Linked DNA regions of Homo sapiens. The protein of the gene in region 1 purifies or fractionates together with the protein of each later gene. This does not show direct contact. Each region holds a gene or a part of one and is shown on either strand. Other genes may lie near its edges.

Evidence for each region. The genes of interacting proteins can lie anywhere in the genome.
Region 2: the proteins of CHSY3 (region 1) and P3H4 purify together in Homo sapiens (affinity purification with mass spectrometry; 2 studies listed by BioGRID and IntAct, with this or other methods). This does not show direct contact.

The regions. Positions count from the first base shown.
Region 1 is NC_000005.10:129,907,448-129,914,468, reverse strand, and holds part of CHSY3 (chondroitin sulfate synthase 3), read right to left. Parts: intron 6,393-7,021; coding exon 6,109-6,392; intron 1-6,108. UniProt on the Homo sapiens protein: Has both beta-1,3-glucuronic acid and beta-1,4-N-acetylgalactosamine transferase activity. Transfers glucuronic acid (GlcUA) from UDP-GlcUA and N-acetylgalactosamine (GalNAc) from UDP-GalNAc to the non-reducing end of the elongating chondroitin polymer.
Region 2 is NC_000017.11:41,808,937-41,816,308, forward strand, and holds the start of P3H4 (endoplasmic reticulum protein SC65 precursor), read right to left. Parts: upstream 3,014-7,372; 5' UTR 2,980-3,013; coding exon 2,518-2,979; intron 2,349-2,517; coding exon 2,196-2,348; intron 2,099-2,195; coding exon 1,927-2,098; coding exon of another isoform or gene 1,744-1,926; intron 899-1,743; coding exon 770-898; intron 1-769. Other genes in the region: peptidyl-prolyl cis-trans isomerase FKBP10, read left to right, coding at 4,099-4,343. UniProt on the Homo sapiens protein: Part of a complex composed of PLOD1, P3H3 and P3H4 that catalyzes hydroxylation of lysine residues in collagen alpha chains and is required for normal assembly and cross-linking of collagen fibrils.

The DNA.
Region 1 (7,021 bases):
GGGGCATAAACATGTTCATGATTGAGTAAAATCAACATTAGAAAAGAGGGAAATTTGGCTGGGCGCGGTGGCTTACGCCTGTAATCCCAGCACTTTGGGAGGCCAAGGCAGGCAGATCACCTGAGGTTGGGAGTTCGAGGCCATCCTGACCAACATGGAGAAACCCCATCTCTACTAAAAAAAATACAAAGTTAGCTGGGTGTGGTGGTGCATGTCTGTAATCCCAGCTACTCGGGAGGTTGAGGCAGGAGAATCACTTGAACCTGGGAGGGGGAGGTTGCAGTGAGCCAAGATTGCAGCATTGCACTCCAGCCTGGACGACAAGAGTGAAACTCTGTGTCAAAAAAAAAGGGAAATTTATATGGAATAGGAAGCTAAGAAGGATGTGCAGCAGCCCTATAAGAATAACACAGATATTTTAACCTTAAAAATATGTTATTAAGAACTTATTGATAGTTCAGTTTCATATGGTACAGCTTTCTGATATTACTTACAAGCTCAGGAAAACACTTCCAGAACATATCCTTTTGTGAAATAATGTAATTTCCTAGGGTGTTTACAGACTTTAAGAAACTAAGATTGAACATAAAACATTCTAGTGTAAAATTATCACTTTAAGGAGTCTAATGAAAATCTAGTTAGTCTTATGAAATAATTTTTAAAACTACAGATAAATATTTTTACCAACATAGAACCCTGCTGTCTTTGAAATAACATTTAATTGAATGAAATAGATATCTTCTTTGGCTCTATTTTACTGCAAACATTAAAATGATAAATACAAACTATTCTTAAACTGACTCTTAGAAGAAATGCAAAACTCCTTCAAAGGGAGAAGAACAATAATCAGAATTAAAATTATTTTATGAATTGAATATAAGTGATCTTGTTAAAAACAAAATCAAAAAACAAAACTTTCAGTTCTGCTAATACACAAAATGAACATGAATGTATAAATAATTTTTAACAGTGAGAATATTTTTGTTATTTACTAAAAACATATCTATAATAAAATGTAACTATGTTATATGATATACAATTTTAATGGCCAAATTTGTAACATATTAACTCTTCCATAAATTAAAGTATTTTAAATATGCCTCTCAGTCTCACTGGAAAATCACTTCATTTTCTACAGAATATTATCATGAAACTTGCAATATGTGCATTATCTAGTTCAAAAGATCAAAACTTTTATGCCTATGTAAGCCAGGCAGGGAAAATAAACGTGAAAGAAGAGTCTTACAAATAATAAGAGGACATGAAGGGAACTGTAGATTGCCTGCCTCTGCTAAAGGTGTCAAAAAACAAAAACAAAAGCAAAAAACCTTAAAATACTCTATGTGCCAAACAGTGTTTAAGAGCCATATGCAGCCTCCCAAACTGCCAGATTGCAGCTCTAGAAAAGCAGTAGCCAAGATAGAGCTCAACCAAAAGTGTGATCTTTGCCAACAGGAGAGGCCAATAAATTCTAACACTTGCAGAGTGAATAGAATAGAATGCATGCTTCATTCAGTTAGTAATCTTTGCTTATAAAGTTTGAGGTATAACCCATGAAGTCTGTTGGTTATTAACATCTGCCATATGGCCTTAAAACAAGATGCCTCAATCCTAAGTGGGAAAGGGAGAATCTCAATTTAGACTCTCCAATGATCACAGGCACACAAAGAACCAGTCTGTATAAGGCTCACCCTCAACCAAAGGCCTCTTTATTCTGAACAGGTCAGACCATGCTGGAGGCCTAACTGTGATCTACTGTGGTCTGGGTGCACATCCAGTGATCTTTTAAGATATCTGGATTGGCCTATATGAGCACATTAATTTACTAGGAACCTGGTGAAAAGCAGTACATATCAAAATACATTTGAAATTTATTTTATCTATCACCAAGCGGAAGGAAATAGAAAAAGTGAGCAGAGAAGACAGAGAAAAAGAGCAAGAGACCAACAAGCAAGACATATTTCCCCAGACCACCTGGGCCTTATTGAGAGAAAGGCCAGAAGCTGCAGATCATTACCTCAAAGACCTGAGGTACACCAGGAGGAGGTTCCCACTGCCTTGAGAGACAAGCCCCTGGGTGTTCATGAGTTGACTGGAGAATGAGATACTACTCACTTCCTTCCCTACTGAAGATGCCAGAGAAATTCAAAAAAGGGGGCCATTGTTCTGGCAATTAATTTAGAAATCTATACTGTAATTTTTTTCCTTATGTAGATCTGTTTGGGATTCTTTATATATGTATATTAAATAATAACTTGTTAAGTAATATTTTCCACACAACATCCTCAAATTCAGTTATATATATCTTATACATATTAGGTGCAAAGACTGAAACAGATATTTGTAATGCATTTTTAAAACAGGTGTCCATATTTCATAGTAAGTTTTTTTGTTGTTGTTGTTTGTTTGTTTCTTTGAGACGGAGTCTTGCTGTCTCCCAGACTGGAGTGCAGTGGGCTATCTCGGCTCACTGCAAGCTCCGCCTCCCGGGTTCACGCCATTCTCCTGCCTCAGCCTCCCAAGTAGCTGGGACTACAGGCGCCCGCCACCACGCCTGGCTAATTTTTTGTATTTTTAGTAGAGACGGGGTTTCACCATGTTAGCCAGGATGGTCTCGATCTCCTGACCTAGTGATCCGCCCGCGTCAGCCTCCCAAAGTGCTGGGATTACAGGCATGAGCCACTGCGCCCAGCCCATAGTAAGTTTTACTAATACTGAATTCCTCATATTTCTAAAATACTGCAACATACTGGTTTCTTATTCTTTGCCAAAAAAAGCTTAACTCTCTGAGAATTTATTTTTTATTTTGACCCTTTTGATGTAAATGAATCACCCATCCATTACTAATGATTATTAAGTGAAATATATGAATCCATGTTGTATAATATAGTACGTGATATCTATAACATTAGAACAATAAAAACTAACATCTACTGAAAATTTACTATGTGACAGACACTACATTAAGGGCTTTACATGGATTATTTCACCTAATCTTTCCTGAAATGTATGAGATAAACACTCTTAAAATCTCCACTTTCAGTTGAATTACACACGACTTAAAGAAGTAACTTGCAAAAGACAATTAAACTAGTAAGTGTTAGGATGGTGGCTCAAACCCCAGTTCATATCCCGCTATTACCTTTCTCTCTCTTTCTCTTTTACAACATATTTTTAATAGTATATACAAACACAGAGAAAGTAATTTCAGTTTAGCAGTTAAGAAGAATACTAGAAGCTTCAATCCTGGATTTTTAAAAAATATAACTTATATTCAAGGAAACTATACAATTATATATTTTATTTAATAATTATTTCAATTCTCTTTTTATAAGATCTGTAAGCACGTTCACCATTTTTAAAAGATGACATTCTATCATGAACACTTCATCTATTCAAACTTAAAAATCATGAACATGCCACCTTAACAGGACTCTCAACTCTGAAAGAACTTTTGTTAGGAGGATAAACCAAAAAAAAAAAAAAAAATCCTAAAATTTGTGAAAGGCATAGATAAAAGAAATTTAAAAATTTACCAAAATTCTATCACAGATAGTGCTTTTAAAAGAACTATGGGAAAAAAAGTAATGATCAATTTCATAGCTTTTTTAATGAGCAGATGTAAAATCTCACCTTTACTGAGAATGCCAACCTGGAGTAGAATAGACCAATCTTTCTATATAATATGAACAGTATCATATATGGACACCATTTCCACTAACATAAAATCCAAATTAGAAAGTGAAGTATGGGATCTGTGAATGTTATAACCAGTTTAGCTGTGCCCCAAGTTACGTACTTAGGTGTCTCATGAAACATAGAACACAATCTAGTATTAAAATTTAGATATAATCTCTTTGTATATGTATCTTTACTAGTTTTGCTAACAATGCTTTTTCACATATCTCTTGGTAATAAAATTTACCATCATTTCTCTATATAAGACTTTTGAGATTTTTTATTAGAATTAAATCAATGCCTCCCTTAAATAAATACTGTTTAAATAGCTCCTTTAATGACTGAAATCCCAATACAAAGTAAATTCTATATAATAACTTAGCAAAACATAAAGTCAACAGTACTTATCTAGAAAATATTTTATAATGCTAGGAAAACATGTTGAGACAATTAGTTTAGTTTTATACGGATTCATAAGTCAGTGATGGTCAAGTGTCAGTCTAAATTCAAATGTATTACGAAAAGTTATGGAAAATGTTATATTCACCAGGTTACAGCCTGTAAGACTTGGAATCTCTTTTGTTTGCTCTTACATCAGTTAATAAAAGGATCTAAGATTGCACTTATTCTAATAGACAGGGTGCACATCTATAATATAACTTCTCTTCACTTTAACCAGAACAAAGGCCTATATTATAAATAAAATATTAAATCAATTTTTGAGCTCCCAATTTTTGTGCATATCTTACTGTCTTGAACATGAATGAATGGAATGCTAGGTGAAGACTAGGCCTTCACAGCAGAATCAATGAGAACTTGAAAAGAAGAACACCTAAACACTATCTTGGTTAAAATTTTATATATTATGTTAAGGTAATAAAGTATCCTATAAAACACAATAATTTCCCATCTATATTGTTAACTACAGGTGAGATTTTTTTACTTATCCACACAAATATTTTTTTACTTATCCATGCAAAGTAAATACCTGCAAAACAATAACAGCATGTAAACAAAATCAACTGAATATGTTCTCTGTATTGAATATTTTTGTCTTTTACTTTGTTTTATAACAAAGGAAGAAATATTTTATTGAGTTTATTCTAGATTACCTGTCTCTAAACTGTAATGTTTTTACATAAATTTTTATCCTAAAGGGTAGTTGTAGGATAGTTTTTACAAATTACCATTTTATTATCAAAAGAAATCAGCAACATAATCATTTCAAATTTTCATGCCTATTTCAAATGACTAATAAATTTTACTTTCTGTAATGTATAAAATATGTCCCCAAAGTATAAATACCACAAAGTATGAAAGAGAAAGCAAAATTAACTATAGTGAGACTACACTTACAATACAAAAAAAACAAATGAAACTGTGTGTTTGGTGACTTCACAGGGAACATATTTTCATAAAATGTTTCTTCTATACTAAGTGACATGAAAAGTTTGAAAACATAAGCAAAGGAGTTAAGATATAATTTACAAAGCTGTGCACTCCGTAGCTAAAATAATACTAAATTCCAACTACTTGAAAACCAAACTATACTAAAAACAATACATTATTTTAATGTTAAATAAATTTTTACTAAAATTATCTTTTAGGAAATCTATTTTAAATAAAATGTTATTACATTTCAAAATCAATTTCTGAAGAAAAAATCTCTAAGTATTTCATAAAAATGATCACGGCAATAAATAAATAGCTAAGATTATTTAAATAATGGTTCCTTTTCAGAAAATAGCATAAGAATAGACATAAACAAATTTTAGGGAACCTGTCAAAAATACTAAGCAGCTACTGCACACCATTTAAACTTCTGCTTTTTTCCAGACAACTCATTCCTTTTGTATGCCTAAGGAAATACAGTGATTGGAATTTTGTGAATACATCTACCATAAATGATACACTATTAGTTTACTTTTCTGATACTTTTAAAAATATGTTAAATTTCCACTGGAAAATATCCAAAGAAACTTCAGATTTTAACCATTTAAAAACAAAGAGATGCCATTACACACCTAACCAAAATAAAATAAAATAAAATAAAAAGGCACAGTACCAAATGCTAAAGGCTACAGCTAAAGAGAAGAGTAAAATTAAACCTCTTGTTAGAAAAGGGAAATAGATTCACATGTATATAAGCACCAATAAATCAAGCAGGGGAGGATATAAGCATCTTCCAGAGATGTGGCCATAAGTATAGGCCACTGCTTAAAGTTAAGGGGCATGCTAATAACAAAGTCTCAGACAGGCCTGACACCTAATGAGAAAGTTATCTCCCACTCTTGTATCCCTTAAGGGCTGCTACTATCACTTTCAAGTAAATACAAAGATACAGAGAGAATGAATAGAATCGCTGCCCTAGATTATAAAATGGCATGTATATGTACTATGTGAACATTTTCATCACAGCTCCATGCTTACCTCGTAAGACCAGACACACTGAGTCCCACCAAAACGGCGAACGCATCTTCCTACTTCCACATCCTCATGAGTCGTGTACATTTCTCTAAGGCATTCACCAATATGTGGCACCATCCTCCTGAGAACTTCTCGGCTAAAGATCATGCCAGGTCCTCCCATACAGAAGTTTTCCCCAGGCTCCAGTCCCAGCTTTCCAAGCTCTTCAATATTCCCCAGGCCAGTCTGTCCCAGGTAGAGAGGCTTACTGCTGTTTAGCGATCTAAGAAACTCTTCTAATTTATCACCTACAAAAAGAAAGGCAACAATTACTATGTCTCCTTATTTCATAATCACTTATCATGTACAAGGTAAGGGACAGAACTTTCAACATTGTGCTTAAAATCCTCAGTCTTACACAACTGAAAAGAAGAAAAAGCCTCTTCCAATACTCTATTATTTTTAAAAGACTAATTCATAGTTATTAATTTAAACATATTAAAATTGTACCAGCTTCTGGTTAAGGTCACTGAAAAACCTTAACAGCTCTGACAATCATCAATTTTCTGTAAAAAGTGAAATAATGACAAGGAAAGTAAAGACAGGTTTCTTAGTACATTTGAAGTAACAAGAAGTTCCCAGGAATATAAAATAATATTAAATACTGGTATTTAGCATTGTTTTGGCTGACTCTTAATACCTAATAATTATTTTTTACTCATAATTGGTTTAGTTCAGTGTTTTGCCATTAACTAAACTTCAGTCATATACAACCCGCACAGTTTTGGAGGATGTTTGAATCAAACCTGTCTTGAAATTTAATTTGGGAAGGCACCTTTTTAGAAAAAAGTTTGTCAAAAATTAGTGTAATTGGTTTCACTTGCAGTTTGTTAAGTTCAGAAAAAACGTTTAAAAATAAAATTTTGCAGCTAAAACA
Region 2 (7,372 bases), on another chromosome or scaffold:
TTCCAGCCCCAGTGGATGCCAGGATCTCTCCAGTGAGGAGAGCCACAAGTCCTGGTGCCACTTTTTATTAGTCATAAGACCAACAGCCCCTTGCCCTATAAGCCTCAGTTTCCCCATCTGAAAAATCGGTCCAGTAATGCCAGCTGCATGGTGTTGGTGAAAGGACCACATAAGATAAAGTGACTTATAAACTCTCAAGTGTTGGCCGGTCATGGTGGCTCATGCCTATAATCCCAGCACTTTGGGAGGCTGAGGCAGTGGATCACCTGAGGTCAGGAGTTCAAGACCAGCCTGGCCAACATGGTGAAACCCCGTCTCTACTAAAAATACAAAAACTAGCTGGGTGTGGTGGCAGGCACCTATAATCCCAGCTACTCAGGAGGCTAAGAGAATCACTTGAATCCGGGAGGCAGCGGTTGCAGTGAGCCGAGATCGTGCCCCTGCACTCTAGCCTGGGCAAGAGTGAAACTCCGTTTCAAAAATAAAAATAAACTGTCAAGTGCTCTGCAGTTGTTGGTTGTCTAGTCATTTGCCCAAAAGACCCTCTTCTTCTCCCTGAGGCTGCTGTCTGTTCTCACTCAGAAGCCTCTCACCTGCCCCAGACTCCCAGGGTGCCTTCCCCATATTCCCACCACCCCTAGACTTTCCTCCTATCACCCAGGGTCCTCAATACTGAAGGAAAGCTCCCCACAACTCTGGGAGGCTCCCATACAGTCCTCTCCCTTATCACCTCGTCCCCTGCCCAAGCCAGCCCACCCAGGGGGCTCACACTTATAGTAGGCAAACTGCAGGTAGTGGTACATGGTGGCCACGAACTTGTCCACGAAGTAGCCACCCACATTGGGGGTCAAATTGGCCTCACAGTCCACCTTGCACTGCAGGGACTCTGCAAAGAGATCTGAGGGTGGGAGGCAGCAGTGAGAGGCTGGCATTGCAATGAACATCTCCGTCCCCCCAGTGGAGAAGACTCTAAATCCAATCTCTGCCTACTAAGCCAAGCTGCTTGTCCAGAAAATGTGTTGCTGTTGCAATCACAGGAGAGAATGTCTGTAAAGTGCTTGGCATACTATATGACAAGTGATGGTGAGGAAGATGACTGTGGGCTGGGCTGACTCACCACCCCTGCCACTCAACCACCACCCCAAGCCAGAGGGAGCCAGGGCATTCTGGGAGAGCAGCAGGTGAGGTCCAGAAATGGGGCAGAAGTCCAAACAGAGAAGCTAAAGGACAGTCTTTTTTTTTTTTTTTTTTTTTTGAGACAGAGTCTCGCCCTGTCGACCAGGCTGGAGTGCAGTGGCGCGATCTGGGCTCAATGCAACCTCCGCCTCCCAGGTTCAAGCGATTCTCCTGCCTCAGCCTCCCGAGTAGCTGGGATTACAGGTGCCCGCCACCACGACCAGCTAATTTTTGTACTTTCAGTAGAGACGGGGTTTCACCATGTTGGTCAGGCTGGTCTTGAACTCCTGACCTCGTGATCTGCCTGCCTCGGCCTCCCAGAGTGCTGAGATTACAGGTGTGAGCCACCACACCTGGCCAAGTACAGTCCTTTCTGCCCCTGCTCGAGGGACCCCAGGGTTAGAGATCCCAAGACTAGGTGTAATTTCTGGTTATCAACTGCTTTCTGCACACATCTGCTGGGTTACTTCTCACCGCTGCACCTTTGCATCTGCACTGCCCTCTGCCTGGAAGGCCTATGAACCCAAGCTTCCCAAACCCTTTAGGGATGTCACTGCCTCTACTCACTGATCCAGCCCCTTGGACACTCCCAGCTGGGGCCCCTGCACCCAGCGTCTTTCTCAACAGACAAGGCCTTCCTCCCGGCTGGCTCCTCCGCATTCGCAGTGCTCCACGTGCATGAAGGGGACATCTGCCTTACCGGGCCCTGTGGGTGAGAGGACCGCCCACCGTGGTCTGGGTGGCAGATACCTGCTATGGCCGGGTAGAAGTCCTTGAAGTCCACCTGCTCATGGGCCCCTTCACAGCCGGCCAGGCACCGGGCAAAGACTGCCAGGTACTCTGACAAGGCCCGCTCCATGTCCTCCGTGCTGCTGCGGAAATCCCCGCTGTTGTAGAGCTTCACAGCCCGGAGGAACACGGCCTGGAAGGGGCGTGGCAGGGGGAGTCAGGGCGCCCCCAACATCTCCCCTCCTCTACTAGCCCTCCTCTACAAGCCTCCTCCTGACCCTCCACCCCACCTCGTAGGGCTGGGCCTCTAGGTCCGTGAGGGACTCGTCGGCGACGTCCAGCATCCCCTGATAGTAGTTGAGATACTTGGCGGTCAGCTCGTGCTTCGGGTTCCTCTGGAGGAAGGTGTAGGCCGCCGCCACCGCCTTCTCCAGCCGGTTAGCCTGGTCGGGGGGTAGGGGGTGGGGGAGCGGGTCAGCAAGACCGGAGCTCGCGGCCCCGAGCGCACGGCGGGCTTCGTGCCTTGGGTGAAGATAACGCTCCTTCGACCGATCTGTGGGGAGCCACGACGCCCAGCCCGAGACAGGTCCCCGGGTGGGGGCGGGCTCCCACCTTGAACAGCGCGTAGTGCAGGTACTGGTAGGGCAGGCGGCTCTGGAAGTCACGCAGCAGCTGCCGCGGCGGGTAGGGCACCTGGAAGGCGGGCAGCGTCCGCTTGCAGCGCCGCAGGCAGGCGGCTCGCTCCAGGACGCGGCCGAAGAGCCGCAGCTCGCAGGCCCACTCGTCTGCGCGGCCGCCGTCGGGATCGGGCTTGGCCGCGGGCGCGGGGCCGCTGCAGTTGGCGTGGCAGAAGGCCTCGCTGTCGCGCAGGAGCCGGTGCAGCCGCAGCGCCGCCTCCAGGTAGCGCGCGCTCTCGCGCCAGCTCTCTCCCTCGTACTGCTCCAGAGCGTGCCCGTACGCCGCGGCCAGCGGCATCAGGTCCTCGGGCGGGAAGCCCCGGAAGCTGTACTTCTCGTACTGCGCCCCGGCGCTGCCCAGCAGCAACCACAGCAGCCCCCACGCCACCCGAGCCATGCCCGCCGCGCCGCCGGCTCTCCGGAGCTGAGCTGGCTGCCCCGCGGACGGAAGGGGACAGGGCCGGGCCCCGGGCGGGCGGCGCGCCCGCTGGGTCTTAGCGCCGGGCACGAGGCGGCAAGGTGGGGCGGGGCCTGGGTCACGACGTCTCCCCTCTTTTCCCAGAGGGTCCGATAGTGTCGTTAAGTCCTCTCCGTCGGCCCGGGCTCCTGCCTTGGGGGTGTCCCCTAGGTAGAGAATGCGTCGGGGAGCGCTTCCCGCCAGAGATGGGAAGCCCAGGAAGCCCCTCCCCATGCAAACAGTGCCCCCGCCTGAGATCAGGACACTGAGTGAGGGCCGCCTCCTCTGCGCTGCCCATACGAGAAGGAAGCCCTGGAGCCGGGCCTTCCGTCGCTGCGCCCTCCTGCACCCTCCGAGTGTCTCCCCCGCCCACGTCGGAGGCACACACCTGCTGTCACCTGCACACCTTGCGCTGCCACCACCCCCCACTCCATCTCCGTGCCCGTCACATCCCAAGTCACAAAGTCCTTCTTTCAGTCCAGCTTTTGCGGGACCAAGCTGCTCTTCCCTGGAGATGCCTTCCCTTGGAGTACAGCTGGGGTCACGGATGAGCACGGAGATGCCTCTCACACTCCGCGGCTTCACCACCCACCTGGAGGGGACTAGAATTCGAAGTGCCCGCGAAAGAAGCAAGGTTCATCTCCGCCCGGCTTTAGGACCCGGGGGCTCCGGAAAAAGTCATTGAACTTTTTTTTTTTTTTTTCCTTTGGTGTCCACTCAGAGTTCTCATCTTTCCCGAGCCTCTCTCCCTGGCCAGGCCCCAGGTCTCGCAGCCAGGGATGGAGATGGGGGGAGGGGGAACCTAGAGTTCTTTGTAGTGCCTCCCTCAGACTCTAACACACTCAGCCTGGCCCCCTCCTCCTATTGCAACCCCCTCCCCCGCTCCTCCCGGCCAGGCCAGCTCAGTCTTCCCAGCCCCCATTCCACGTGGACCAGCCAGGGCGGGGGTAGGGAAAGAGGACAGGAAGAGGGGGAGCCAGTTCTGGGAGGCGGGGGGAAGGAGGTTGGTGGCGACTCCCTCGCTCGCCCTCACTGCCGGCGGTCCCAACTCCAGGCACCATGTTCCCCGCGGGCCCCCCCAGCCACAGCCTCCTCCGGCTCCCCCTGCTGCAGTTGCTGCTACTGGTGGTGCAGGCCGTGGGGAGGGGGCTGGGCCGCGCCAGCCCGGCCGGGGGCCCCCTGGAAGATGTGGTCATCGAGAGGTACCACATCCCCAGGGCCTGTCCCCGGGAAGTGCAGATGGGGGATTTTGTGCGCTACCACTACAACGGCACTTTTGAAGATGGCAAGAAGTTTGATTCAAGGTAACCCCGGTTGGGCGCCCCCGGATTCACCACTCCGTCCCCTGAACCCGGGGTCCTGTTTCCTTGTTGCCTCTTTTAAGCTCTGCATCCCAATACTCTAACCCTAGACAGCACCCCTGGGGCCTCCCAGACACCCATCTCCCCAAAGATACCCTCCTGCCCCCACTTCCAAACCCTCACTTCTCAAAGGATCCCATTTCTTTCTCACAAGCTCTCCACATCCCGGAAAGGACTCGATAATCAAGGTGAACTGCCTTGTGTAGTTACCAGGGCTGTATGTAATGACCTGATGGAGAGGGGTGTTCTGATCTACAGTGTTGGGGGGAAGGGGGTGGTCCCTGCTGCTTAAGAACCCTGGGATGGTCTATCAGCCTGGACCCCGTACCTTTCCACCCACCCTGACTCCCCTTCTGGTTCCACTGTTTTCAGTGCCTTTGTGGTCAGAGAAGAGGGAATAGAACTTTTTTTTGGAGGGGGTGGGAGTTTTCAGCGGCTGGTGGGCAGGGAAAAAGGCTGGTGGGTATTATAAGAAGACAGCCGGCTGGACCTGGGGGTAGCGCGTGGCTCCCTGCGGAGGCCCTGTCTACGTGTCACACAGTCGGACATGCCACCCTGGGCTCCTTGGAGGAATTTCATTCCTCCCTCTCTGGTTCTCCTGGAACCCTCATCTCTCTCCATTTTAGGTACACCAGGCCAGAGGCACAGGCCGCCCATTTTTGCCAGCCTTGGGGTTTGTAAGGTGGCCTCCTGGTCTGACCCAGGCCTTTGGTCTGCCCCAGCAAGTCCACTTTTGTTAGCGGGGACAGGGCAGGGCTGTATGCCAGCCTCAGGGGTAAATCTAGGGTCCCAGTTACACACAGACCCCACAGCACACTGAAAGAAGTCAGTGTTTCTTAGACCCTCCTCTGAAACACACAACTCAGCCCACAGGAAATTAGTGGCCATGACTTTAGAGGCAGGCATATATTGGGGTAAGCCTACAAACTCCAAGAGTCCCAAGACCCTGGTTCAAATCCAGGCTATGACCATGGACAGAGAATTTTGTCTCTTTAGGCATCACTTTCCTTATCTGAAAAGTGGAGACAAAAACAGGACCTACTTGCTAAGGCTGATGTTAGGACTCCAAGGACATGGATGAATGAACGTAGGCTTCTCACAGGGCCTGGCAGTCCTCCAGCCAGTTCAGCACACATTAACATTGACCCTGAGGAAAACCATATGACCTGATGCTGTGGAACTTGTAGAAACTTAATGCAGAGCTTAAGCCTTCATAACAACACTGAGAAGGAAACAGTCCAGACTTAAAACCTGTCTGCTTGGTGGGCAAATTCAGATATAGGGTAGTAGCCAGAAGTGCAGCCCTGAGCCCTTGACTGCTAGGAGTGAGGCAGGGGTTGGGATTTAGGGGATGTCATCCCTGATGGGGACTCTGGGAGCCCAGCTCATGAGTGTTGAGCTTGGAAAACTTTTTGTTTTTTAGCTGGAGGCTCACTCTGTCGCCCAGGCTGGAGTGCAGTGGTGCCATCTCAGCTCACTGCAACCTCCTGGGTTCAAGCAATTCTCCTGCTTCAGCCTCCCAAGTAGCTGTGATTACAGGCGCATGCCACCACGCCCAGCTAATTTTTGTTTGTTTGTTTGTTTTTGTTTTTTGAGACACAGTCTCACACTGTTGCCTGGGCTGGAGTGCAATGGAGCAATCTCAACTCACTGCAACCTCCGCCTCTGCCTCCCAGGTTCACGTGATTCTCCTGCCTCAGCCTCCCGAGTAGCTGGGATTACAGGTGCACACCACCACACCCGGCTAATTTTTTTGTATTTTTAGTAGAGAGGGGTTTCACTATGTTGGCCAGACTGGTCTTGAAAAAGGCGGGTGGGTATTATAAGAAGACAGCCAGCTGGACCTGGGGGTAGGGCATGGCTCCCTGCGGAGGCCCTGTCTGTCTACGTGTCACACAGTCAGACATGCCACCCCAGCCTCGTGATCCGCCCACCTCGGCCTCCCAAAGTGCTGGGATTACAGGCGTAAGCCACGGCGCCCAGCCTTAATTTTTCATATTTTAGTAGAGATGGCGTTTCACCATGTTGCTCAGGCTGGTCACAAACTTCTGAGCTCAGGCAATCCACCCTCCTCAGCCTCCCAAAGTGCTAGAATTACAGGCGTGAGCCCCCGCGCCCACACAACTTAGAAAACTTTTTTTTTTTTTGAGACAGAGTCTTGCTCTGTCCCCCAGGCTGGAGTGCAGTAGCGCGATCTCTGCTCACTGCAAGCTCCGCCTCCTGGGTTCACACCATTCTCCTGCCTCAGCCTCCCGATTAGCTGGGACTACAGGCGCCTCCACAATTTTTTTTGTATTTTTAGTAGAGACGGGGTTTCACCATGTTAGCCAGGGTGGTCTCCATCTCCTGACCTCATGATCTGCCCGCCTCGGCCTCCCAAAGTGCTGGGATTACAGGCGTGAGCCACTGCGCTCGGCCAGAAAACTTTCTTAACCCATGGCCCCTTCAATTAAAAAAAAAAAAATCTCCCATCCTCACTTTACTTCTGAAAACTTAAAATAAATTAAAAGTGTATATAATTGGCTGGGCACAGTGGCTCACTCCTGTAATCCCAGCACTTTGGGAGGCCCAGGCAGGCAGATCACTTGAGGCCAAGAGTGACCAGCCTGGGCAACATGGCGAAAGCCCTCTCTACTAAAAATACAAAAATTAGCCAGATATGGTGGTGCATGCCTGTGATCCCAGCTGCTACTTCGGAGGCTGAGGCAGGAGAATCGCTTAAACCCGGGAGGTGGAGGTTGCAGTGAGCTGATTGCACCACTGCACTCCAGCCTGGGTGACAGAGCCGAGACTCCATCTCCAAAAATACATATGTATAAGTAAAAATAAATACATTAATTAAAAGTGTATAACTAAAAACAAACAAAAGCCATGGCACTTTTAGAATAGGCTTTTTTTTTTTTTTTTTTTTTTGAGAGGGAGTCTCACTCTGTCGCCAGGCTGGAGTCCAGTGGCACGATTTCGGCTCATTG